Linked DNA regions of Homo sapiens. The protein of the gene in region 1 interacts with the protein of each later gene in a pairwise test. Each region holds a gene or a part of one and is shown in the gene's direction. Other genes may lie near its edges.

What was found.
Region 2: the proteins of BNIP3L (region 1) and CLN8 interact in a two-hybrid assay, tested with the Homo sapiens proteins (one study listed by BioGRID).
Region 3: the proteins of BNIP3L (region 1) and STEAP3 interact in a two-hybrid assay, tested with the Homo sapiens proteins (one study listed by BioGRID).

What each region holds. Positions count from the first base shown.
Region 1 is NC_000008.11:26,385,122-26,393,678, forward strand, and holds part of BNIP3L (BCL2/adenovirus E1B 19 kDa protein-interacting protein 3-like), read left to right. Parts: intron 1-5,291; exon of another isoform or gene 5,292-5,396; intron 5,397-6,121; coding exon 6,122-6,305; intron 6,306-8,557.
Region 2 is NC_000008.11:1,766,706-1,774,713, forward strand, and holds part of CLN8 (protein CLN8), read left to right. Parts: intron 1-4,226; 5' UTR 4,227-4,349; coding exon 4,350-4,892; intron 4,893-6,218; coding exon of another isoform or gene 6,219-6,467; exon of another isoform or gene 6,468-8,008. UniProt on the Homo sapiens protein: Could play a role in cell proliferation during neuronal differentiation and in protection against cell death.
Region 3 is NC_000002.12:119,219,947-119,227,758, forward strand, and holds the start of STEAP3 (metalloreductase STEAP3), read left to right. Parts: upstream 1-3,887; 5' UTR 3,888-3,942; intron 3,943-7,812.

The sequences.
Region 1 (8,557 bases):
ATTTTGTCAGTGTGTTATTCTACCTAATTGACAAAGGTGGCCAACCTTTCTGTTTCTTTTTAGTATTGTTTCTTAATTGTACAGTTTTCTTATGAGTGAAGATACTTGGTAGGTGTACGTGATTTCACTGAAAGCAAAGGGATTTTCATCTTCCTTTGACCCTTTAACAACAACAACAAAAAGGGCTGAGCCAGGCAGGGCACGATGGCTCACACCTGTCATCCTAGCACTTTGGGAGGCCAAAGCGAGTGGATCACTTGAGGTCAGGAGTTCGAGACCAGCCTGGCCAACATGGTGAGAGAACAACCCCCTCTCTACTGAAAATACAAAAATTAGCCTGGCTTGGTGTTGGGCGCCTGTAATCCCAGCTATTCAGGCGGCTGAGGCAGGAGAATCGCTTGAATCCGGGAGGCAGAGGTTGCAGTGAGCCGAGATCACGCCACTGCACTCCAGCCTGGGTGACAGAGCAAGACTCTGTCTCAAAAAAAAAAAGGGGCGAGGGCGGGGGCTGAGCCATATGTCATTGTTTATCTTGGTGTCTGACAGACCTATGAGGAGTTTGATGTCTTTGGCCAGTCGGTTCCTGCTTGGCTGACATCAGCTCTTACAGAGGTGGAAGTACACTCAGCCTGCATGGGACATCAAAATGTTGCTTTGGGACATCTGCTAGATAGAAAGTATTTTGTGTGGGATAGGGTGAGCTTTCTGAAAAGCTTTTAGATATTGCCATATTTAATTACTCCCTTCTTGCCTCTCACTCTGTTCGTTTTTTTAGCTCATTACACAACACTGTACTGAACAAAACAAGAAGCCTCATTGAATTCCTTGAAGTGATTTTTGGGCAATGGGCAAAACAACTTATTCAGGCATCTAGTACTATCCAAATTGCTGATAAGTCGAAGGACTTTGTTGGGTAAAGTTGCACAACTGAAAAACAGGAGAAGAAATGTACAGATTATCTTGCGTTTGGGATTTTATCTTTGGTTCAGGGGTCAAAGCAGGGTTTCAATAGCAAATTACTGAAGTATTTGAATAGTGAAGTATTTTTGTGATTTTTTTTTAACTTTACCGCTGTGGAGAGACTGTTCACTTTCATTAAAAATTACAGGGCAAATACCCAAACTCCTTCCAAGTCAAAAGGATGTTGTCCAGTTTGTTTTATTGTTAAGAAAACTATCAACTTCCTTAAGAATGTTTGAATAAGATTCAATAGGGCCGAATAAGGAAAATCAAAGTAGTAGTGTAAATCGTAGTATAATTCTTGTTGTTGAGAAGTATAGCCTTTTTTTTCTTTTCAAATTTTCTTGTTCTTTTTTGTTTTTTGTTTTGTTGAGACAGGGTCTTGCTTTGTCACCCAAACTGGAGTGCAGTGGTACAGTCATAGCTCATGGCAGCTTAGACCTCCTGGGCTCAAGTGATCCTCCTGCCTCAGCCTCCCAAGTAGCTAGGACTGCAGGTGTGCACCCCCACATCCAGCTAATTATTTTATTTCTTGTAGAGTTCGAGTTTCACTTTGTCACCCAGGCTGGTCACCGGCTAACTTATTTTTTGTAGAGATGGAGTTTTGCTTTGTTGCCCAAGCTGGTCACAAACTCTTTTTTTTAAATAGAAACATCTTCAAGCACAATGTCCTTGCTTTCTTGTTATGAAGAGTGCTCTTAAGGCCTTCATGGATTGTCACTGCCTCATAATAATGTTTTGAATACCTACGTAACTTGTATGTAAATACATACTGCTGCAAAAAGACCAACTTTTCAAAAATTTATTTATTTATTTTTTTATTTAAGAAGAATGCCAGTAACTCTTGTTGGCCTGGTCTGGATTTCAGCATCAGGTTGGCCTGGTCTGGATTCCTTTCAATAATGAATGAAAAGCTTTGAGGAAAGAATGTAAATATAATGAAATTTCAAAAGAGTTACATGTGGGCCTTGAAAAGTTAGGGGGAAAGATGAGGAGAAATACTCTTCATTCTCTCCTCCCCTTGTCCCAAAGCTCCTCTCTTCTTCTTCTTGCAAGAGGATTGAACTAGTGATTATAAAACTGTAAAGATTATACAACATACGGCAATGAGTATAATCACAATTATTGGACCACCCTTCACAGTCTATTATGTTAGAGAACGGAGAAGCATTCACAGAAGTTTCTCTGAATCTCTTAGTCATTCCCAAAAACCCAAACCAGAAAATATCTCATGTCATTGTATGTTATGTACAAATTGGCATAAGGAACAGCTCTTAGTTTGTAAAGTCTTTTAGATAATGGAGAAAGCTTCCAGCTTTTAGTTTTCAAGCTTGATCATTAGGAGGAGAATTCACTCTGTGGTTGTTTTCTACTTTGTGTTGCTTGGACAGCACAAACCTCTTATCTAGCCTTGTTTCCTTTCCAAGTAAAAAGGGACTTTGTGAGGATTGGTAGAGTTAGAACACTAAGAAATTCTGAGGCTGTAAATCAGGAACAAATCGGGTGATGGGAAACAGACGTGTTGTTCATCTATTGAGGAAGACACATTTGCTTTTTTATGTGTTACTCAAAAGATTAATATGTAGCCTCTTAATGCCTGTGTACATAACTTTCTCTGTACCACTATGTATTTCCATAGATGATATTTTTGAAAGAGAATTACCCTTAATTAATTAAAGGAAATCTACACTTTTAAGGCTGTTAATACCTATTGTCAAATTATTCTCCAGAATGTTCACTGAAGCCCTAATTGTAATAACAAAGTATTAGAAACAACCATCTCAGTAGTAGTTAACCATTGCCATTTAGATAATGGTTAAAGTATGGTATATCTTTATAAAAGATGAGATGCAATGCAGTTGTTCAAAAGAATGAATGTCAGTATATATTGATAGGGAAGACATCTGAAAAACGACTTACAGAATATGTCAGTATGTGTGTATGGTACAGTTCCATTTCTTTATAAAAACAAAAGCAAAAACAGACCTATATTTCATTGACAAAAACTCTGCAAGTCTCCATGTGAAACTGTCAAAAGTGGCTCCTTTGGGAGTAGGAACGGGAGGTTGGGAGAGATGTTAATTTTTAATTTTATGTACTGATGTTTACGTTTTCTAGGAACACATTTTTCCAGTAAGGAATGGTTTTTCTATGATATAGAATATAATTGTAGTAGCTAAAACTTTCTTAGGGACCTTTCTTATTGTTCTGCGTGCTATATTCATTTAATCCTCCTAACAAAGTCTTCGAGGTAGATACAGTTATTATCTCTATTTTATAGATGAGAAAACTGAGGCACAAAGAGGTTAAGTACCCTGTGCGAGGGTAACAGCTATAACTGAGAGTGGGAGCCTGGCTTCAGTCTCAGCCCCTGACCACACTATACCAGTGTATCCCAAGTACAAATTGTCCGCCTTAAGTAGAAATGCTTTCAGTTATGATTCAGGGTGTGGAGGCCACAGCAGAGATCACTTTTACTAAGCTTTTCTAGGTATGTCTCTTTCAGGTTCCAAAAGTATATATTGGATTATGATTGCTTATGTGTTTTTAATGAAGAAAATAGGATCCAGACATTGATTTGAAAGTCCTTCAAAAAAGTAAAAACCAGGTTGGGAGCAGTGGCTCATACCTGTAAGCCCAGCACTTTGGGAGGCTGAGGTGGGAGGATTGCTGAAGCCCAGGAGTTTGAGACCAACCTGGGCAATGTAGGGAGACCCTGTCTCTACTAAATAAATAAATAAATAAATAAATAAATAAATAAGTCGGGCATGGTGGCATGTGCCCTGTAGTCCCAGCTTCTTGGGAGGCTGAGGTGGGAGGATTGCTTGGGCCCAGGAATCAAGGCCGCAGTGAGCTGTGATTGTGCCACTGTACTACAGCCTGGGTGACAATGCAAGACTGTCTCAAAAGAAAAACAAAAGTAAGGACCAGAAAACCTGATATTGTTTGTTACACCCTTTTTTCTCTTCGATTGCCTACTTCAAGTGAATATTAATTGTATTTTAGGGAAGACTGACTTCCACAGAGACCTATCTGGAACTCCTGGTTCCTTACCTCTGCTTCTGTCAGAGCAGCTCTGGGTTTTGGTTTGTTACTATTGTACACATTAGGCTTCTATACAAGAAGAACTGGTCCCATTGGTTTAAAAATAAGTTTGAAAATCCTAGAAACAGTGAGAGTCAGAAAAAAAAACTGTTTTTATATACATATTCTCTCCCCCACCCCCTTTCTCTCCAGTTGAAATATGTTGCAGAGCTCTAAATTTAGGGATGCTTTTGGCGTATTTCTTATACACTCCAGAGGCACTCGAGATAAATTATCTTCAATGTTAGATCTCTCTTAGCTTTGCTAGTTGTATTTGTTAATCCATTTTGAGTTCTCTAGCCTGTGTCCATTTTATGTGTGTATAGAATGAGGCCATGGAGATGTTGTACAACTGTGTCGTTTGGCAGCAGAGTCCTAAGGAATTGGTGGTGACTATGGGATGGTGGTAGCCACTGGGGCTGCCTCAAATGGAAAGGAAAGGGTTCTAAGTATTTATAAAAGAAAATTCTAGTGTATAACTGAGCATCTTCTATTTACCAGCACTTGATACTACTAAATCGTCACAGCACCCCGGTGTTATTATTATCTCTGTTTACAAATGAGGAAGCTGAAGCTCAGGTCACACAGGTAGACAGGAAGTGATGGGGTCAGATTCCCAGCTAGGTCTGCCTTGGAGCTTTCCTTCTTGTGAGGGTGATGTTCAGTTCACTCTGGAACTGGTGTAGCCATCGCCACATTTAGAGTGCATTTTAGAGTTTGAGCCAGTTTTGATGATTTTACTTCAACTTACTGATGGAACTCCTTGTTCATCCCTGGAACTCTCTAACACTTCTGCTGGGAGTTTAGAGGGATGGCCACACCAAGCTGCTTGGGTACATTTTCTAAAACAAAATTTATTGTAAGAAATGGAAATTATGAACAAAATATACCACTATCTCTTTTTGCTGTGAAGTTAAGTTTATTGGCTACTGTTAACAATTTATTTACTTACTTACTTACTATTCTTTTGTAGAGACAGGGTCTTGCCATGTTCCCCAGGCTGGTGTCAAACTCCTGGATTCAAGCAATCCTGGTGCCTCAGCCTCCCAAAGTGCTGGGATTACATGTGTGAGCCACTGTACCTGGCCTCAACTCTTGTTAAAATTAAAGCACCTTAATACGTTTAGCAAACTCATCAGACCAATAAATATTTTCAAGATGTATGCAGAATTACCAGTGGCACATCCCCTTTTTCTGTGGCTCCACCCCTTCAACTTTTTGTCCAAGAAAACTTTTCGTGTTTGCCTGTAGCTGATGTGCAGTTGTTTCTGCTCCCAAATCAACAGGGTTTAATGAAAACCCTAGAAAGTAGAAACCCGTGGGAGAGAAAAGAAAAAAGACAAGTTCACAAGGTATGTTTAGTGTATAAAAAAGGAGAAGGACTAGAAAGCCTGAGATACAAAGGAAATGAAGAAACTAATCAGTGAGATAGAGATAAAGCTTTTTTCTGAATTTTTAGCATTATTACCTGATTTAGTTAACCAGCTGCATTAATTTTATGCTCCTGATTTGTGCACAAATTGAAATTTTTGCTATTGGATTTAGGTTCCCTCTCTAGGAGTTTCTCAGTTGTTTGCACTAAGTAGGATATAGTTGCTAACTTACTTAGATGACCTTTTATGAAATTTGTAGGTGATATATTTATTTCATTTCTGGAGCAGATACAGCTGAGCAGCTTAGGTAGACTATGAAGAAAGTGTGTGTGTATATATACACCAACTAAAATGTTAAAGGTAAATAGCCTAAAAGTAGCAATTTTTTTTTGAAAAGCAACCTGAGTTTTCAGTAGAGTGTTATTATAAACCAAGCTTTACCCAGAGAGAAATTGACTGAAAAACACGTTTTCTGAGATGTTTTAGAGTTTGAGCTGTTTCTCAGTTGATGGCATGAGCTATTTCAGGAACAGAACTATATAGATCTTTAGACTTTTATTACTTCTTATTTATTTTCTTCAGAATACTTTTACATTTGGTTTGAGGAGAGTCAGAATTCTTATCTGGATTCACCATGTTCACATCTGTGTGCACATGACAGATTTCAGTTCTGCTGTGGTTAACTTATCTGACTTGTCCAACAGGTTCCTGGGTGGAGCTACCCATGAACAGCAGCAATGGCAATGATAATGGCAATGGGAAAAATGGGGGGCTGGAACACGTACCATCCTCATCCTCCATCCACAATGGAGACATGGAGAAGATTCTTTTGGATGCACAACATGAATCAGGACAGAGTAGTTCCAGAGGCAGTTCTCACTGTGACAGGTAAGTGAGACCCATGTTTTGGTGGAATTCAGGAAACAGGTGGGTTACAGGGCTCATTCACTCTAGGAAAAATCTGTTTGCTTAAATCTTCACTTAGCAAAATATGCCTCCTGATATATTGTAGTATAATATATATTGCACAGATATATATTGTGTTTATATGAGACAGCTAATTGACAGGTGCTTCAGTGCCCACTGTTTTTCCCCAGATTGTCATTTTTCTTACCCAGATTATATTGTTTCTAGCAGTTTATCAGTTTAAAATTCAGTGGCATAAATGCTAATTTATAGAATTAATCTGACTTTCCCCCATTTTCCTTTGTGTCCCTGTGTTACAGATCACAGACTGTTCTTGAATTAGTTACCTCTGTATATATGTGTCTTCCCTTCTAGATGTTGACGTTGCAAAGGGCAGGGGCCATGTTTAATTTTTATTACCTTCACAGTAATGGTGCTGGCACGTAGTAGACACTCAGTAAATGTTTGATTCATAGGAACTGCAGGTTGCTTCACGTTATAGCAATATTTGCACAGTTGGAAGCACCAACCAAGGTCTGTAAAGATAGTTTTGAAGTCTCCTCTGCTTTCTCAGGGGATGTTTTGTTTCAGACCTCATTTTTCTATATTTGAGCTGAAGAAACTAATTACATGGATTAAGGACTGCTTATGGTGAAAGAGTAAGAATACAACGAGATATGTGTGTGGAATGAAACCAGGTCATTATTTTTTAGTATAAACTTTTCTGTTTTTTTTTTTTTTTTTCAGAAGGGCTAGATATTAAATGACATTTAAGAAATTCTTGTTTCAGTGACAGCTACACTGTTAGCATTATGGGGCACTGGATGACCTTCTGGGTGGTTGTTAACTGATGTTAACCATTTAGAAAATGCAAATGCACGGGAAGCAGATTAAGGAAATGTAAACAGTGACTATTTTTAGGAATGCAGTATGGATATGTTTCTTCTTAACATTTTTGTATTTTGTAAAAATTGTGTATATTGCACATATTATTACTTATCAGAAGAAGTGAAAAAAAGGAGAAATGAGTTAAATCATGTCCAACTTCCTGAGTGGCTTATGATCCACTAATGTTGCCAAGGCAGCGGGGGACTGGTTTGTTGGCTCTGTGGCACACTGTGCACCCCCGCCACCCCCGTGTCATCCCTGACTTGTCCCTGTGCTTCTTAGAGCCTGGGATGGCTCTTGTCATAAGCGGAACCAGAGCAGATGGCTCTCTTCTGAACAGCTTGCCCTTGATTCCAGTAGCTACAGCATTAGTCTGTCTTTCCGAATGAAGATTTATATTTATATTATGGAACTTGCTGATGGGTTTCTCAAGTTTTCTGCTTGTTATGGCCTGTCAACAAGGCTTTCACTCTGCGTTCAGGTGTGTGGGCCTTGATCATTGATACCATGGTGTCCATGAGCCTGTTGTTCACATGGTGCTGTCAATGAGCAGAGAACAGTCACCTGCTTACCTGTCTGTTCATCTTACTTCATTTATGGTGCAGTTTTACGTGTGACTGAATATGCCTTCACCCTCCTATGATCATGTTTAAGTTTAGGTTGCCATGAGGAGGCATGGCAAATGCTTTTGAACACTTTCGTACCCCTCATCTTATGTCTCTCCAGGCCCTAGATTAGTGGTCATCTTTCAGAGAATGGCTAGAACTCGAGTCTTCTGGGATAGCCTACTAACACGCTTTACCATTGAGGAGTGTCTTCAAAACTCACATCATCTGAATTGCCATGCGTCTCTATATGTGAAAAGTAATTGGAAAGTGTTTCTTGTAGGGGGAAATGTTTTAGGGTTGTTGGGTATCAGTCCTAGAGCTGATTTATGTATATTTTCAACTTAAAAATTATTCCATAGAAATATTTGTGTTGCCGCAGGGGTTGTTAGCTGGGAACCCCAGTGTGTTCTGCTTTGCCTTTCACCCTGTCACAGGGGTTTTCACCTTGACGGCACACTAGATTCACCCAGAAGCTTTTAAAAATGGCAGCACATGGACTGCATCTCAAGAACTTCTCATTTTGGTTGACAGGGGCAGGGTAGAGACGTCACAATATTTTAAAAGCTCCCCAGCCGATTCTAATATGTGCCATGGGTGAAGCTCTAATGCATTCCAAATTGTTAGGAGGAGTAAACAGTTTAGAGAAGAGGTTGGTACCAGTGTGAAGAAGCATATAGAAGCAGAGCAATGCTTCCATAGGATTCTTGACTTTGTCACCCTGACTGCCTTGACCTGGTC
Region 2 (8,008 bases), about 25 Mb from region 1:
TTTACCCATGGAAGGAACAGTGACTTCCAGCTGTGCATTACACTTAAGGACTCCTTCATGTGGCCTGAGCCTTATGGTGCACAGCAAGGGAACAGTGGGAACCCCTGTGTCCCATTTTGCGTATCAAGAGTGAGAGGGTGTGGTTGGGTCAAGGAGCAGAAATAGAAGCAAAAGGAGAAGCTGAGCTCTTCCCATACCCCTTCTGTGCTGCCTGACAGAACAAGGCCTAGCCACACTTCTGTGGGTGCCCACCTTGTGACTTGGGGTGAACCACAGCTGTTCTCAGTACAACGCTGATGCCACGAAAGGACAGCAGAGCTCTGCAGGACTCCAGGAAGACTGGGCGCTTGGGCTGGATCCTGCCTCTGGGACTGGCCTTCTACCCTCATGGCTGAGAGAGCTGAGGAGTTCACCTCCTTTGTGAACTCCTGGCTGGAGGATGCTGGTTGGCATTAACTAAACTCAGAGACCCACAGTAACGAGTTAGACTAGAACAGCACCAGCTTACCCAGAAAGTCAGGAGGTTTGAGCAAAGAATCAGAATGGGGGATTCACTACAGGACTGGAAGGGGAAGTAAGCATTCTGGTCTTTATAATCTGCTGTTTCTGCATCCCTAATTGGCACCTGTTCTCTGACTGCCAGGAGGGTTTGCCCACTCAGCTGTGGCTTACCTGTTTCTGTTTCCATGTCTTTCACCTATCTGCCACTTTTCTGTAGATATGGTAATCTCTCCAAAAAGATATCTAGAAAGCTTGAAGACCTGGTAGCTATTTGCTCTTATGGTGAAGATCACACAAACTAGTTGAACATCTGGCTTGTAGTAGGTGCTTCATTTCCCGCTGCTCTGTATGTTTCTTTCTTTTTTTTTTTTTTTTTTTTTTTTGAGACGGGGTCTCATCTTGTCACCCAGGCTGGAGTGCAGTGGCGCAATCTCAGCTCACTGCCACCTCCACCTCCCGGGTTCAAGCGATTCTCCTGCCTCAGCCTCCCAAGTAGCTGGGATCACAGGCATGTACCACCACGCCCAGCTAATTTTTTGTATCTCTAATAGAGTCGAGGTTTGACCATGTTGGCCAGGCTGGTCTCGAACTTCTGACCTTGTGATGCACCTGCCTTGGCATCCCAAAGTGCTGGGATTACAGGCGTGCGCCACTGCACTCGGCCTGCTCTGTGTATTTCTTTTTCCTGTAGTCAGATTCTGGGGTCCAGGGTGGTTAGGAAAGAAACTTGTTTTCTTTCTTTCTTTTTTTTTTTGAGATGGAGTTTTGCTCTGTTGCCCAGGTTGAAGTGCAGTTGTGTGATCTCGGCTCACTGCAACCTCCACCCTCCTGGGTTCCAGAAATTCTCCTGCCTCAGCCTCCTGAGTAGCTCAAATTACAGGTGCGCACCACCACGCCTGGCTGATTTTTGTATTTTTAGTAGAGGCAGGGTTTTGCCGTGTTGGCCAGGTTGGTCTTGAACTCCTGACCTCAAGTGATTCACCCACCTTGGCTTCCCAAAGTGCTGGGATTACAGGTGTGAGCCACCACACCCAGCCTGAAACTTGGTTTCTTAGCTCCTAAATAGTGAAATCAAGATCAGAGCCCACTAAGCCAGCCGCTCTTCTTGGTTTTTGGTTCTCATGTCCTGGAGTCCCTCTCACCTTGACCAAACCAAAGACCTCCTGAAGCATCACTTGGGCTCACCACTTCCACTGAGGTGGATTTGAGTCATTGATCTGGGCAGAGCCTTCTGGAGTCGGGGTTTCTCTCGTCTCAAGGCAGAGGTCCTACAGAAGTTAGTGGTCTTGGCCAAGCGGACATTGATGCAACTGTGGCAAAATGGGACCTATAAGTCAGAGCTGATGACCTACTCGTGGAAAAGTACAGGGAGAAGTTTTACGAGGGGTCCATATTTTAACCTTTAACAGTGTTGTTCACGTTAACCCTTGTAATGGATGCTATTCCTTGCCTGATACCTGTCCTTTCCACCCAGCCTGCTTTTCTTTAATGCTGGTAAGCGGTCTCCCCTCCAGGCATTAGGCTGCACTTGAAGTTGATCTGCTCCTGTGAAGTGCATAGGGGTTCAACGATGCCTTGCTGCACACTGAATACCAGAGCCGAGTGCTCTTGCCAGCCCCTTAATACCATGTTCAACCTGATTTGTCAACAGGTTAACAGAAATGTGTTTGGAGATGTGTAAGTACACTGGAGTCTTGATATATAGCATGACCAGAAGTGTGGGTCACGAGGGCACACATGGGCATGGCAGCCCCTCAGTTGTCATCCATAGCATCTATCAGAGAGCACGCCTGTGTGCCCTGAACTCACGCACCAGGGGCAGCATGACACGGGAGCCGTTTCTCTAGGGAGAAACATGAGTACCAGTGCTGTCTTTCCCCACATCAGATTTGTGTTCAAACAGAGCTAGTCTGTGTTAAAGCTGGAGTGTTAATGGAGAAACAGACAAACTCTTGTACTATTTTGCCTTTGATTATAGACCATTATCAAAGCAAGAGGTTAGGAGTGATCAGTGCTCCCTTGTCATTTGCATCAGGTCCCAGGACTCACATTCTTTGCATGCTTGTGTGAGCTAGTGTTTTCCATGTCCTTGGGGTGTGGTCACAGCGACCTTTTTGCCTGAATAATGATTGGCAAGTTTTTGCTGAATGGCCACAGTGAATGGCTCCTCCTATGCTTCTGGCTCTAGTCCTGCTGTCTCACAATTGAGTCAATTCTGGGGTCTCTTCCGGAGAGCAGAGGGTCCAGCTGCGTGGGGAGTGTGGTGTTCCCAGCCCTGCTGTCTGTTCGCTGGGTGTGAGTGACAAGAGTCCCCACTCCCTGCAGAAATTCCATTACCTGGACAAGTCCCTGCACACTGGGTGAGGGGGGACCAGGCGGGGACCTGAGTCTTTGTCGGTAGCCGTTCCTATGTCATCGTTGTGTGCCTGGGTTTCCTGCCGTGTAAAAGGAAAGGCTGGAATCAATCACACGTCCCTTCCAGTTTTTCAAGAACTTGAGACTCTGGTGTTTGTAGCTTTGCAGACAGGTTCAGGCTTAGGTAAAGTGGACCCTTTCAGCATGATTCAGCATCTGTTCATGTGTTCCATAAATGTTTCTTGAGGGCCCACTGTGGACCCAGTGCTGCATCAGGCAGAGGAGATGCTGTGATGGAAGGCAGGTGTGGTCTGTGCCCTCACAGAGCTTGCTGTCCAGTGGAGGTGAGGATTCAGTAAGCACTTGTCCTATGTGCACCCCACCAGCAAGTCTCCCGCCTTCACAGCAGTCCCAATCAGTCACACAATTCAGGCATCGCAGGATGAAACATATTTAAGTCATTACACTGGGATACACTTTGTTACAGCACTGAACTTCTGCTGTTTGATCCTAGTTAACACCCCAAACACCAAAAATGAGTGTTTGGGGTATGCATCAGGAGCTTGTAGCAAAGGTACTTAACCCAGTCCATGGGTCTCCCCTACTCTGGGAGGGCATCTGGAGCAAATGGCCTTTAAGTGAGGACCTGACAGGTAAGATGATGCCAACTTGGGGAAGGTAAAGACTTTTCCAGGAGAGGGCCCAGCAGCTGCAGAGACCCAGAGGTGCAGGAGAGTGTGATGTTTTCAAAGGACTGGAAGGTTATAGCATGGAGTGAGATGCAGGGGATGGTGAGAGTGGAACCAGAGAAGGTATAATTGATAATCACATTCTGCAGAGTGCCGTAGGTCACAGTGAGGAGTTCAGGCCTTCCCTGCTGCTGTTGAGAAGGCATTCCATGGCCTTAACCAAGGAATAACATGAAGAACAGGAGCACAGGTTTTCGTGACATCCTTGGGGTGTTAACTAGGATCAAACAGCAGAAGTTCAGTGCTGTAACAAAGTGTATCCCAGTGTAATGACTTAAATATGTTTCATCCTGCGATGCCTGAATTGTGTGACTGATTGGGACTGCTGTGAAGGCGGGAGACTTGCTGGTGGGGTGCACATAGGACGAGCATAGGACCGTGTGTTCCTGCCAGCACGGCTCCGGCCTCCTGTTCGTGGCTGGACCGCTCTAGCTTTAGTTTCATTTTCTTTCCTCCTATACTGTCAGTGGATGTTACCTTGGTATGTTTATGCACCCTTGTAAGTTCATTAAGAATAAGGTACAGAATTAAATATTTTGTAGTTTAATGTTTGCGTTACTGGGGTAGTGATGTGTCCTTGTTTCTATCGAGTCAACACAAAATGAATGATCTTTCTTTTAGATTGAAGATGGATACGTGACAATCCCAGGGACCGCTGCACTGACTTCATTTCCTTAGACAAGACACAGTGTAGGGCCCGGCCCGTGTTGGCCCCAGGACTCCTTTGGAATATAGCTGTGGACAATGAATCCTGCGAGCGATGGGGGCACATCAGAGAGCATTTTTGACCTGGACTATGCATCCTGGGGGATCCGCTCCACGCTGATGGTCGCTGGCTTTGTCTTCTACTTGGGCGTCTTTGTGGTCTGCCACCAGCTGTCCTCTTCCCTGAATGCCACTTACCGTTCTTTGGTGGCCAGAGAGAAGGTCTTCTGGGACCTGGCGGCCACGCGTGCAGTCTTTGGTGTTCAGAGCACAGCCGCAGGCCTGTGGGCTCTGCTGGGGGACCCTGTGCTGCATGCCGACAAGGCGCGTGGCCAGCAGAACTGGTGCTGGTTTCACATCACGACAGCAACGGGATTCTTTTGCTTTGAAAATGTTGCAGTCCACCTGTCCAACTTGATCTTCCGGACATTTGACTTGTTTCTGGTTATCCACCATCTCTTTGCCTTTCTTGGGTTTCTTGGCTGCTTGGTCAATCTCCAAGCTGGCCACTATCTAGCTATGACCACGTTGCTCCTGGAGATGAGCACGCCCTTTACCTGCGTTTCCTGGATGCTCTTAAAGGTAAGTGCATGCATCAGCAGAAGATGACATGTGCCTCACGCATTTAATCACTGGCTACAATGTCCTGGACGCTGCCATAAACTCAACAGCAGGCTGGATTGCAGCACACACATTCAGTTACAAACTCATTTTAGTTGAATGCAATATTCTGGTTTTGTTTATTTATTTATTTATTTTGAGACGGATTCTGGCTCTCGTCCAGGCTGGAGGCAATTTTCTTAATTTTAAGTCTTTTAGGCTTTCTCTTCCTTAAGGAAAGAAAGCTCAGTAGATTTTATGGCTCAGTAGATAGCGTCTGGAAGCACTTAATTTTTTCCTTTCTTTTAATACTATATTTATTTATTTATTTATTTTTTGAGACGGAGCCTCACTCTGTCGCCCAGGCTGGAGTACAATGGCATGGTTTCGGCTCACTGCAACCTCCGCCTCCTGGGTTCAAGTGATTCTCCTGCGTCAGCCTCCCTAGTAGCTAGGACTACAGGTGCGCACCACCACACCTGGCTACCTTTTTTGTCTTTTTAGTAGAGATGGGGTTTCACTATGTTGGTCAGGCTGGTCTTGAACTCCTGACCTTGTGGTCCGCCTGCCTGGGCCTCCCAAAGTGCTGGAATTACAAATGTGAGCCACCGTGCCTGGCCTCTTTTAATACTTTAGAAAAACTGAAGTAATATCTGTGCGTACACACATACCTTGCTTGCTTTTTATTTTTGAATAAGGTTGTTGTACTAGTGCTCAGAAGTGTTGGGACCTAGCATAGTTATTTGCCTAGCACTTTCTTTCTGTTTTTGAAGAACATGTTTTAAAAATATTTGTCACTTGATTGTCATATTGATGTCAAAATGTTCTTCATGTTAAACTCTTTAAACTTTTTTTCCTTTTGAGACGGAATCTTGCTCTGTTGCCCAGGCTGGAGTGCAGTGGCATGATCTTGGCTCACTGCAACCTCCGCCACCCGGATTCAAGCAATTCTCTTGCCTCAGCCTCCCAAGTAGCTGGGATTACAGCGCCCACCACCACGCCTAGCTAATTTGTGTGTGTGTGTGTGTGTGTGTGTGTATTTTTAGTAGAGACGGAGTTTCACTGTGTTGGCCAGGCTGGTCTTGAACTCCTGACCTCAGGTGATCTCCCCGCCTTGGCCTCCCAAAATGCTGGGATTACAGGCATGAGCCACCGTGCACAGCCTTAAAATTGTTTTTACATAGATTCTTGCTATCTTTTATGACCCATCACATTGTTTATGGGATATTTGATATGAAATTTGAGATCCTGCAAATGTTCAGCCATTCACACAAATGGGTCATGTTACTGCACATTTCTTGTCTACAGGAGACTGGTAGCCTCGAGAGGAAAAATAAGCATAACAAATCACTCCTGCCTTCGGGGTCGAGGTGGGTAGATGATATCAGTCCATCAAAAGTGCACTGCAGTGTAAACAGTACAGACTGTTCATGCATAACCACCATGGACACCAGCCGGGTGTCAGATACTGTGCTGGCACCTGGGAACTCAAGGAGGAACTTGTGTTCCTGGTGTCCCCTGAGGTTGGCCCCATCTGGCACCAGATGGGGTGTGTGAGCACAGTGACAGGAAAGTGCAGAGAAACCATGGCCCCAGATGCGGACCCTCTGCAGGAGGAGCAGGTGAGCACCTCGGAGTTAAGGCAAGTGAATGAGGGTGAGTGAGGCACAGTCGTCGCCAGTACAGAGCCTCACAGGGTGGCCATGGAAGTAGATGGAGCCTATGGCAGGCGATACTGGAGACATCCTGGTGAGTGCGTGGTTTGGGCGGTGGCAGGAGGAGGTTGGGGGCCGGTGTGATTTGGGTAGAACTTACCAAGGAAGAAGGGTTGGAACCATGAATAGTTTGAAAGAGCCCCTCCGGTGACCTGGCTACTGAGTTCCCTTGGCGAGCAAATGACTGAATATGAAGCTGCTGGTCTAAGTGTGGGTCATTTTGGGAACGATGCTGTGACCTGGGACCCCATCAGCATCCTGTACGCAGCTTGCAGTTTTCCAGTTTTCTCTTTGTGGGCGTTATTTCCATAAGAGTGCAGACTTCTGGGATGCAGGTCAGGGCTGTGACTTCCCTGGGTTTCTCTGGAGTGAGATCAGTGTGGAGTGGAGAGGTGTGTGCTGGAGGAAGAGGCCTTGGCCTGTGCTCCGCATTGCCTACTCCTCTCACCTGGAAACACCGGACTTCAGGAGTCACTCGGCTGTGGCAGAAAATAAAGTTCTTGAAAGGAAAGCAGAGGCGCTCACTCACATCGATGCCCTAAACATCAATACCACATCAATGTCCCAAGTGGTAAATAGTGACTAAATTATTAATACATCCCACAAGATGGTGTGCTTGAGGTCATTAGTGTATTTTGAGAAATAGATTAATAGTTATCTTGTATTTTATTTTTATTACAAGTTCTTTAAAAACAACAAGAAAGACGTGAGTCTTTCTGTCTCTCCAGTCCTCAGGGGAAAGCAGTGTTGGATTTCTCCAGGGTTTTATCTGTGCTTCTCCTGGAGCCAGGTGTGGGGACAGCGTCTCCAGCAGTTCTCCCTCCCCTGGTGTGGTGGTGGAGCCCAGCCTCCAGGAGGACAGACTCAGCGAGATTTTATTTTGAAGTTTGCACATTCTCTAAAGCTTTTAGGGTGCTGTTTGTGTAGAATGGAGAAAGGGTTATTTAAGTATTTACTTCTAACCCTGCTCATGTTAACTGTATAAAGCCAACAGACCCTAATAAGAGAAAATTATAACCTAAATTAATATAGCTCAGGGCCAGTATGTCTACATAGTTCTATTTTGCTCTAGTTGAAATACTAATAAATGCAGTAAGAAAACACTATGTCTAAAATGTTGAAATTCTTTGAAATTCTTTTAAAGCTGATAGATTCTTGCATAGTAGTAGGGCATGAGGATTCAACATTTCTCCCCCATCAAGGTCTGATTTGATCAGAACTAAAGGATGTAAAGACAAAATATTACCATCAATTTAGGATGGGGGTCTAAGTCAAGCACAGTGGCTTATTCTTCGTATTTCTGTCTTAGATTTGGTTCTACTATTTATCCACAGACTCACTAGTTCATAATACAAATGAGGTGATATAAAAGCACTGTCAGGC
Region 3 (7,812 bases), on another chromosome or scaffold:
TCCCCCACCCACCCTCCACCCTGGCATCTTTTATCCACTCTTCCTTCAGCAACTGCCTTTATCAATGCTCCCTTGAGCCAAAATAAACAAATAAAAAGCAACTTCCTTTGGAAGCTACTCCATACTCTTGCGCTGGCCACAGTTACATCTCCCTGCAGATACACAGATTCTCATGACACAGAGCTCAGACAGTGCTTCCTCTCTGGAGGGCTCATGTTTCGAGAGAAGACTGGAAGGAGGACAACCTTATGCTCCAGTAGAATTCCAAATTCTGGGGTGCAGGGACATTTCGTGTGTGTATGTGGAGGGGGGGGTGTCCTAATGCCCTGTAAGCCACACTTTATAATGCTGTACAATATTGGGTCACCATCATGGGCCATGGAAAGCAGAATCTGTGAGGTTCAGTCCCAGGCTCCAGCACCCCTTTGTCAGCTGGCCTCCCCGCTCAGTGCCCTCTCCCACTACCTGCCCTGCCTCAGCTCTGACTGCTGCTGATGTGCCTCCACCCATCAGGTCATTGTGATGGCAAAGACAATGCCTCCATTTGCCCTGAATGCAGCCTTACATAGGAAAGAGCTTCCTGTGCTCCAGAACTTGGAGGAGTCCTGCAGCACCTGGTCTAGTGGGGAGAGCATCAGTGGGGAGCGGCACCTTTCCTGCAGCCACGGCCCACTGGGCAGGACCAGATCCAAGTGGCCTGGCTTCTGGCTAGGGTGTCAGAGTACATTGGGGCATACAGCTTCCCGTGGCCATCTCGTTTTCATGGAGGATTTATTTTGTGAAGTGGACCTGCTCTGTCCCATCCTATAAATGCTGGATTAATCCAAGAAGCTGAGGGTGAGCAACATCCCTCTCCTTCCTGATCAAATAAGAAATAAATCTAGATTTTCTCCTGGATGCTATTCTCTTCTTAGCCAAACAGCTAACCTTGTCTTCAAGGAAAAAGGGCAATCCCAGGGGCTCTGTAAATTGAATATTCAGCAACTCCAGGGGCAGACATCCCTAAGTGCATAAGTGGAGCACCCCTCTGAATCAGCATCACACCAGCTGGGGGCATAAAAAGGAGAGCAGAGTAGGCAGGAGCTGTGGGGACATTTCTGAGATGCTAAAAGAGGCAAGGAAGTGTGAGGACGGGTGTGCATTCATGCAACAGGTATTTACTGAGCACCTACTATGAGCCAGGCAGTGCTCTATCCATTAGAGATACGGAATTGAATAAAACATAAAAATCCCTGCCCAGGAGGAGCTCACATTTCTATGGGAGAAGACAGTTACTGAAAAACAGTCCAAAAAACTCTATTTTATAGTGTGTTCAGAGGTAATACAGGCTATGGGGAAAAAAAGAAAGCAAGCAGGTACATGGATGAGGAATGGGGGCGATCAGCGTGGGCCTCACAGAAATGATGACCTTTCAGCCAAGACTTGGAGGAGGTAGGGAGGGTACCTGGGGATGCCTAGGGTCCAGGCAAGGGGAACGGCAGGGGTCAGGATCCTGTCAGATTCATCTGAGGTGGGACTGAATGTGAGCAGAGAGAGGGAGACAGAGGATGAGGGCAGAGAGAAGGCCAATCACACTGGGCCACGGCTATTGCAAGGACTTTACTTTTGCTGGGGGAGGGGGTAGAGTTTTGAGCAGAGGAGAAATGCGATCTGGCAAACATCTTGCAAGGATGGCTCTGACTGTTCTATCCTTGGCAGAGGACACCAGAGTCTGGCCCATAGAAGGTGCTCAACAAAGCTCAGCACATTGCACTCCTCCCTGGAGTAGGAAAGGGCTCGTCTGCTTTGGGAAATTTGGCTCTCAAGCTTCTGGAAACACCTGACCCCATGCCAGGTGAGACAAGCTCACACTCAAGGCCCCCTTAGTCCAACGGTCAGTGGACAGAACAAGCACCAAAGGTCAACGGCGTGGGCGGTGGCCTCTCTGCCAAAGTGTGTGGGCCCAAGTAGGGTATTCACCTCCCTCCCTGTCTGTGAGAAATTTCAGACCCCTCTACTTTTTCCAGCAGGAGTTCATGTTCCTTTTAAGATAATCCTCTATAGACCTCTGGCAGCCCAGCCTTCAAAATGTCTCCCCCTGTCTCTCTTACTCATGGAGAGCCCCGCTTCCCCGCCTCAAAAAAAAGTCTTCCTCTCTCTTACTCATGCATGGAGAGCCCCACAAAAAGACACTGGTTCCCAGGGATTCTTCCAAAGATGCTGGAAGACCTCTCAGTGTTTGCATTTCCCAAGCTCGGTTTCCTTGTGCTGTCCTTGGGCATTAAAGGAAGGCTATTCAGCCATCCCCATCAGCAGGAGCAGGCATCAAAAGAACAGCTACTGCAGGGGGAGCATATTAGGGGCACCAGAGGGGGCTAGGAACTGGGTCTTGTCTTCTCAAAGTTTACAACCCACTGCAGGGGCCACTCACCAGCCCTGGCACCCTAAGGGCAGGAACCTCCATTGGGCACGTGTGTCTCCAGCACTGGGAGCACTGTCTGGCACCTGGGGCACTGTGAGTGTTGAATGGATAAAGGACCTGTAAGAATTGCCATAAGAGGTGTTGCCCTGGGGCAAGGTGGGACAGGAAAGTTCTTGCAAGAGAAGAGAGGCTCTGGCCTTGGGCCCTGGCTGAGCAGAGAGCTGGGAGGTGGGTATTCGGGTAGGAGGAAAGCTGTGGAGGGGGAAAGCAAACTGCCTGCGGGGGTGGGGGGGTTCTCGGCGGGAGTTGGGGGTGGAGGGAAAGGCGCTTTACAGCAGCACTCCCTCCACAGGGAGACCAGAGCTCTGCCTCTTCCTCCCCACCGTGCCCTTTGGGGTCCAGTTGTGGGGCCTTCCTTGAGGCCCAGCTCCTGCCTCTGGCCTCCGGAGGCTTATCTCCCCAACAGAGGCTGGCTCCCCAGAAAACAGGATTCTTAGACTTCCTAAAAATAACCTGAAGCTCCTTATCAGAGGCTAATAGTGTATGTCTCCCAGGAATACTCTAGAAAGAGTACCAGGGGTCAGGAACCCCCACTCAGCCTCCACGAATCTGAGCGGAAAAGCCCGGGTCTCCTCACCTGTAAAGAAAATAACTGCAGCCGGCAAATGTGACCACAGGTGAGAAGGGGCTTCGGACCAGGGCGCACACCTCTAGAGAGGTGCCCACAGACAGCCTCCCCTTACTTACGCCCTGCTTCGCTGCAGTGCTGTGAAGCCATCGGCATTGGAAGTGCGGAGGGCAGCGGGCAGTGCCCCAGGGGGAAGGGGGGACGGGTAGGGTTTCAGAGCCCAGAAGGCCTAGACAGGGAGGCAGCTCCGGGAGAAAGGTACCCGCCATCCCACCGGTCTTGGAACCTGAGGACTGCTGGGAAGGGTCAAAAGTCTGCCCTAAGGGTGGACAAGGGACAGAGATTGGGGGGGGACCACAAAGGCCTGGGCGCAACCTTGTTGAGAGGGAAGGGATCCGGACCCAATCTGGAGCCCTGGTCTCTTCCCACCTGCAACCGTGGCTGCCACTTGGCCTCGGTTATAAAATGGACAAGGATTCGAGGTGCTCCTCAGGTTAAGAGAGGGGGGCCTAGAGGTCACCCTGGCCTCGGTGCCCTCCGTGGCCGGGTTAAGAGGAGGTCCCGGAGTTCTGCTCACTTCAGCCGTGTGCCGGGCACTGCAAATCAGGAAGTGTTGGCGCCGGCTGGCGACCTCCCGCCTGGGGCCAGGGGAGGAGGGTGGTTGGACGCTGCCACCGCTGCCGGGGCTGTGCAGGGCTGGGCGGGGAGCGAGGACCCGGCGGCTCCTGATTGCGGCCCCGGGGGAGGTGGCCGAGCCGGATAAGCTGCGGCGGGCTGGAGGGCGGCCACCTCCCCTGCAGGTCCGGCCCTCCCGGGCGGGTGGGGCGCGGGGGAGGAGGAGCCTCGGGCCGAGCCACCGCCTTCGCCGCGGACCTTCAGCTGCCGCGGTCGCTCCGAGCGGCGGGCCGCAGAGGTGAGTGTACCCTCCCCCGGTCTCCGCGGGGCTGCGTGCTGCGCCCGGTCCCCGAGACGCCCGCCCGGTTGCACCCTGCGCCGTCGCTGCGCGGACCTCGGGTGCCGCCACACGTCTGGAGGCGACTTCTGTCCCCTGGGACCGAGCCACGTGCGCCCGGCGGCAGAGAAACCGGGTTCCGGGGCCCCCACCCCGTGTGCCTTCCTTCCCTAGGCGTGGAAGCCGCTTGCGCCGCGCAGGTTAGGCAGGGCCGGCGGCGACAGTGGCGGGGAGCAGGCTCCGGAGCCCCGGGTGCAGATGTGGGCGCCCCTCCGGATGACCCCGGCTGAGTCCACAGGTCCCGTGTGCCCCACGGCTGGGGCTCTGGCCAGCGGTCCCAAAGGAGGGCTGGTAGCTGTGGGCGGGGATCTTCCAGGCTCTTCCTCGCCAGACCTCCCAGTCCCTTCGCAGCCGAACAGGGCAGGGACAGGGGCAGGTGCAGGGGCTGGGCAGGGGCGCCCGACCTTGGTCCCCAGGAGGAGGCTGGCCTCACCAGTGCCCGCCTCTGCCCGCGGAGCCCTTGCCTGGCAAAGTTCCCCCTCCTGCCCGGCAAAGCTCCCCCTCCTGCCCACTTCCCCGAAATTTGGGGACAGGCTGCCCGGAGAGGTGTGGTTGGAACTTTGGTCACTCTGGGTAAATGAAGGGGAGGGTGTGCCCAGATAATATGCGGTTTGGGGACCAGAAAGCCGGATCCGTGGGGAGAAGCAGGAAGGTCCCGCTGGAGCCCTGGCAGAGGGCACAGAGAGGCCTCCCAAATATCCAGGGCCACCTCAGAGATGGGCTCCAGAAGTGGGGATTCTGGAAATGCCCCCAGGGAGGTATTTCTGTCCATCAGAGTGCAGCCATAATATAATTAACAGCAGATATTCCCATTTATGTGTGCCAGGCATCTTGCTAAGGGCTTTGAGCACAATATCCCAGTTAATCCTCACAACAGGAAGGCACCATTATCTCTTGTTAAAAATGGGGAAACAGCCTCAGAGAGTCCACGTATTTTGCAAGGATACACAGCTAGGAAGTTGCAGAAGTAGAATTTGAACCCAGAGTTATCTGACTTGGAGCCCAGAGGAACCTACCACTGGGGCGAAACAGGCTGTGTCCTCACGGGGATTCTGGCAGCCCCAAGAATACAGTGCTGAGAGCCAGAAGGTCCACAAAACCAAAGGGTCTCACCTGGGTGTGTCCTCTCAGTCACCTGCAAGGCTTGTTAAAAATATAGATCCCCAAGTCCCATCCGAAGCTGACTGAATCAGCTAGGGGCACCTGGAGGACCCAGACTATGTCTTACTCATCTCTGTCCCTGGTGGCCTGCAGAGGGGCTGGCAAGGAGCAGGTGCTTAGTGAATGTCTAATGGGTAAGTGGGCGGGGTGGGGTAGATGGTGTCACTAGTGTCCTGAAGGGGGCTTAAATGGAGCAGGTGGCCTCAGCCAGGCAATCCGGCAGCAGGTATGGAAGTGACACAGTCTAATGCTGGCCTCAGAGCCAGCAGGGAGCTCAGGCTGGGCCACTTGTCCACCTGGGGGTTGAACAGCCTGCCCCAGGTTTGCTGAGGTCCCCAGGACCAGGCCAGGTCAAGCTGGGATCACACATGTTCCCTCTCCAGCCTAGAGATGTCAAACAGGTAGATTCCTCTCCCATTCATATCTCCTATCCTTGGCCCACAGCCCTTCCCTTCTTGGACTTATCAGAGACCAAGGTGCTGGGCAGGGCTTCAGGTGGTTAAAAAGTGAAAGTTCTTGAGTGAAGTCCAAAGGCGCACACCTGAGAGCTGAGTGGGCAAAAGGTCGCTGGCTGAGTGCTGGGGATAGTCTGGCTTTGGAGTCAGATGGACGAGTCCAAATCTCAGCTCCTTACCCCGTAACATGAAGCCCTCAGCTCTCTGAACCTCTGTTTATTTGCAAAACCTTGCCAAGGGCTTCAAACAGGATATCCTCATAAAACAAGTATGCCTATTTGGGGGACTAAGTGTGTGAAGTGCTGAGTTTTAGGAGTGCAGTAAATATCGGATCCCTCCTTCTTCACCTCAGGTTTGCGAGTTAACCAGTGAGGGGCCTTCCAGGCCTAGTGCTCTTGTAGACCGAACCACTAGCTTTCCTAGAGAAGGCAACTGAGGCCTAGAGAGTGGCCTCCAGGTTCCGTGCTCTGTGGCAGAGCTGGCCTTGGCTCCAAGTCCCAGGGTTCCCAGCTCAGTCTCAGCTGATGCCTCCCAGCCTGGCGGTCTACGCTGCCTGCTACATTCCCTGTCCAGCTACAAATGAACAACTGAGAGGGCTGGGGTGAGATTCAGGCAGGCTGGGGCAAGGGAAGGAAGCAGGTCATTTGGGGAGTCGGGCTCTCTGGTCTTCCAGCTGAGGCTGGATCCACTCTTTCCTGTCCACCCACGGTGCGTAGTGGCCAGGTCTTCCTGAGCTGAGCAGGTTGAGCACTATGAAACTGCTTTCTAGCATCTAGACCAGGGAGTTGCCTCTTGATTTAAAATGAGGATGTTTACCAGTTTAAGTAGTTATTAAAACCTAAGGCCAAGTTGGTGCCTTTCCTCCCTCTAGGAGTTGGAAGGGTGTGTGCTTTTTTCTGCTCCTACCCCACCCCTGCCAAACCATCCCAATTTGAGAGGCTGTGGAGATTACAGAACTTGGAGAGGAGAGGGGCAGGGATCGGGGTTGGAGACTAGATGGTTTTCAAACATTGGGCTACAGAAGTCCCTCTTCCTCCCATCTGTCTCCTGCAGCTGGGTCCACCCACCTGTCCAACACAGCCTCCCACAGGTCCCGGGCCTCTTTGTGCTCCAACCGTCACATCCTTGGCATGCCACACACCCTCACCATCCTGCCTGAAATGCCAGTCCTCATCACTGACATTCAGCCTCCCATGTGCCAGCATCCGGGCCAAACACTTTATCTACAGGAGCTCATTTGTACCTGGAGACTCTTAGGAGGTCGATAATGTTATTCTCCCAACCATGTGACTTTCCAACTCCATATGGACCCCAACCTCTTTTTTTCCACCCCTAACCTGAGACTCCTAGCCACTAACTAACTGCCACATTCTCCTGTCCAAATTCTGCCTCATCGGTTATTCATTCAACAAACACTTACCGAGCACTAACTTTGAGCCAGGCACTCTAAGACCAGCTGAGTCCCACTTCTGGCAGGATGAGTGTTGTTGTCATCAACCACCCCACAAACACCCGTGCCCTCTGCGTACTTGCGAATCTGAGTGAGGAGACACGGTGGCAGTAAGGCTCAGGACCTATAGCTCATGTGAGTGAGCAAGGATGCAAAACCAAAGACACCCGCTCCCCTCACCCACTGAGCTGGAGGGATCAACCACTGTGCCTGCCATCAGGGCTGATGGGCGACTGCTTGTGGATCACAAACTCTTGCGTTGTCACTTCAACCCAGGGGCAGAGTGTGTTCCTCTTCAGGTGTGGCCTGGTCTCGTGAGCCCTGCACTGAATGGGCCAGGCGTTCATTGCTTCAGCACCGTAAGAACACTGTCACCGGAGAATTGTTCGATACTCAACTCTTCCCAGTCAGTCTGTCTTCTGCATGCCCACAGTTACCGGGCAGCGTGGGCAACAAGTGAGCACTGATTGTTCCGCAATCAGGCTGTGACTTACTCCATCTCTGCCTTCTGCTTAATGAGAGCCAGGTGGGAGTTCAGCAAAGATCACATGTTTAAGCCTTGTTATTAAACACGTTAAAAAAATACTGCCCCAAGATTATAAAGCCGACTTCGGTACATATAAAGAGATTTGGGGTCGGTGAATGGGCCCACTAAGCTTTATTTTGTGGTGTCAGCTGTCTTGGTTCATGTGTAGACAGCAGGGC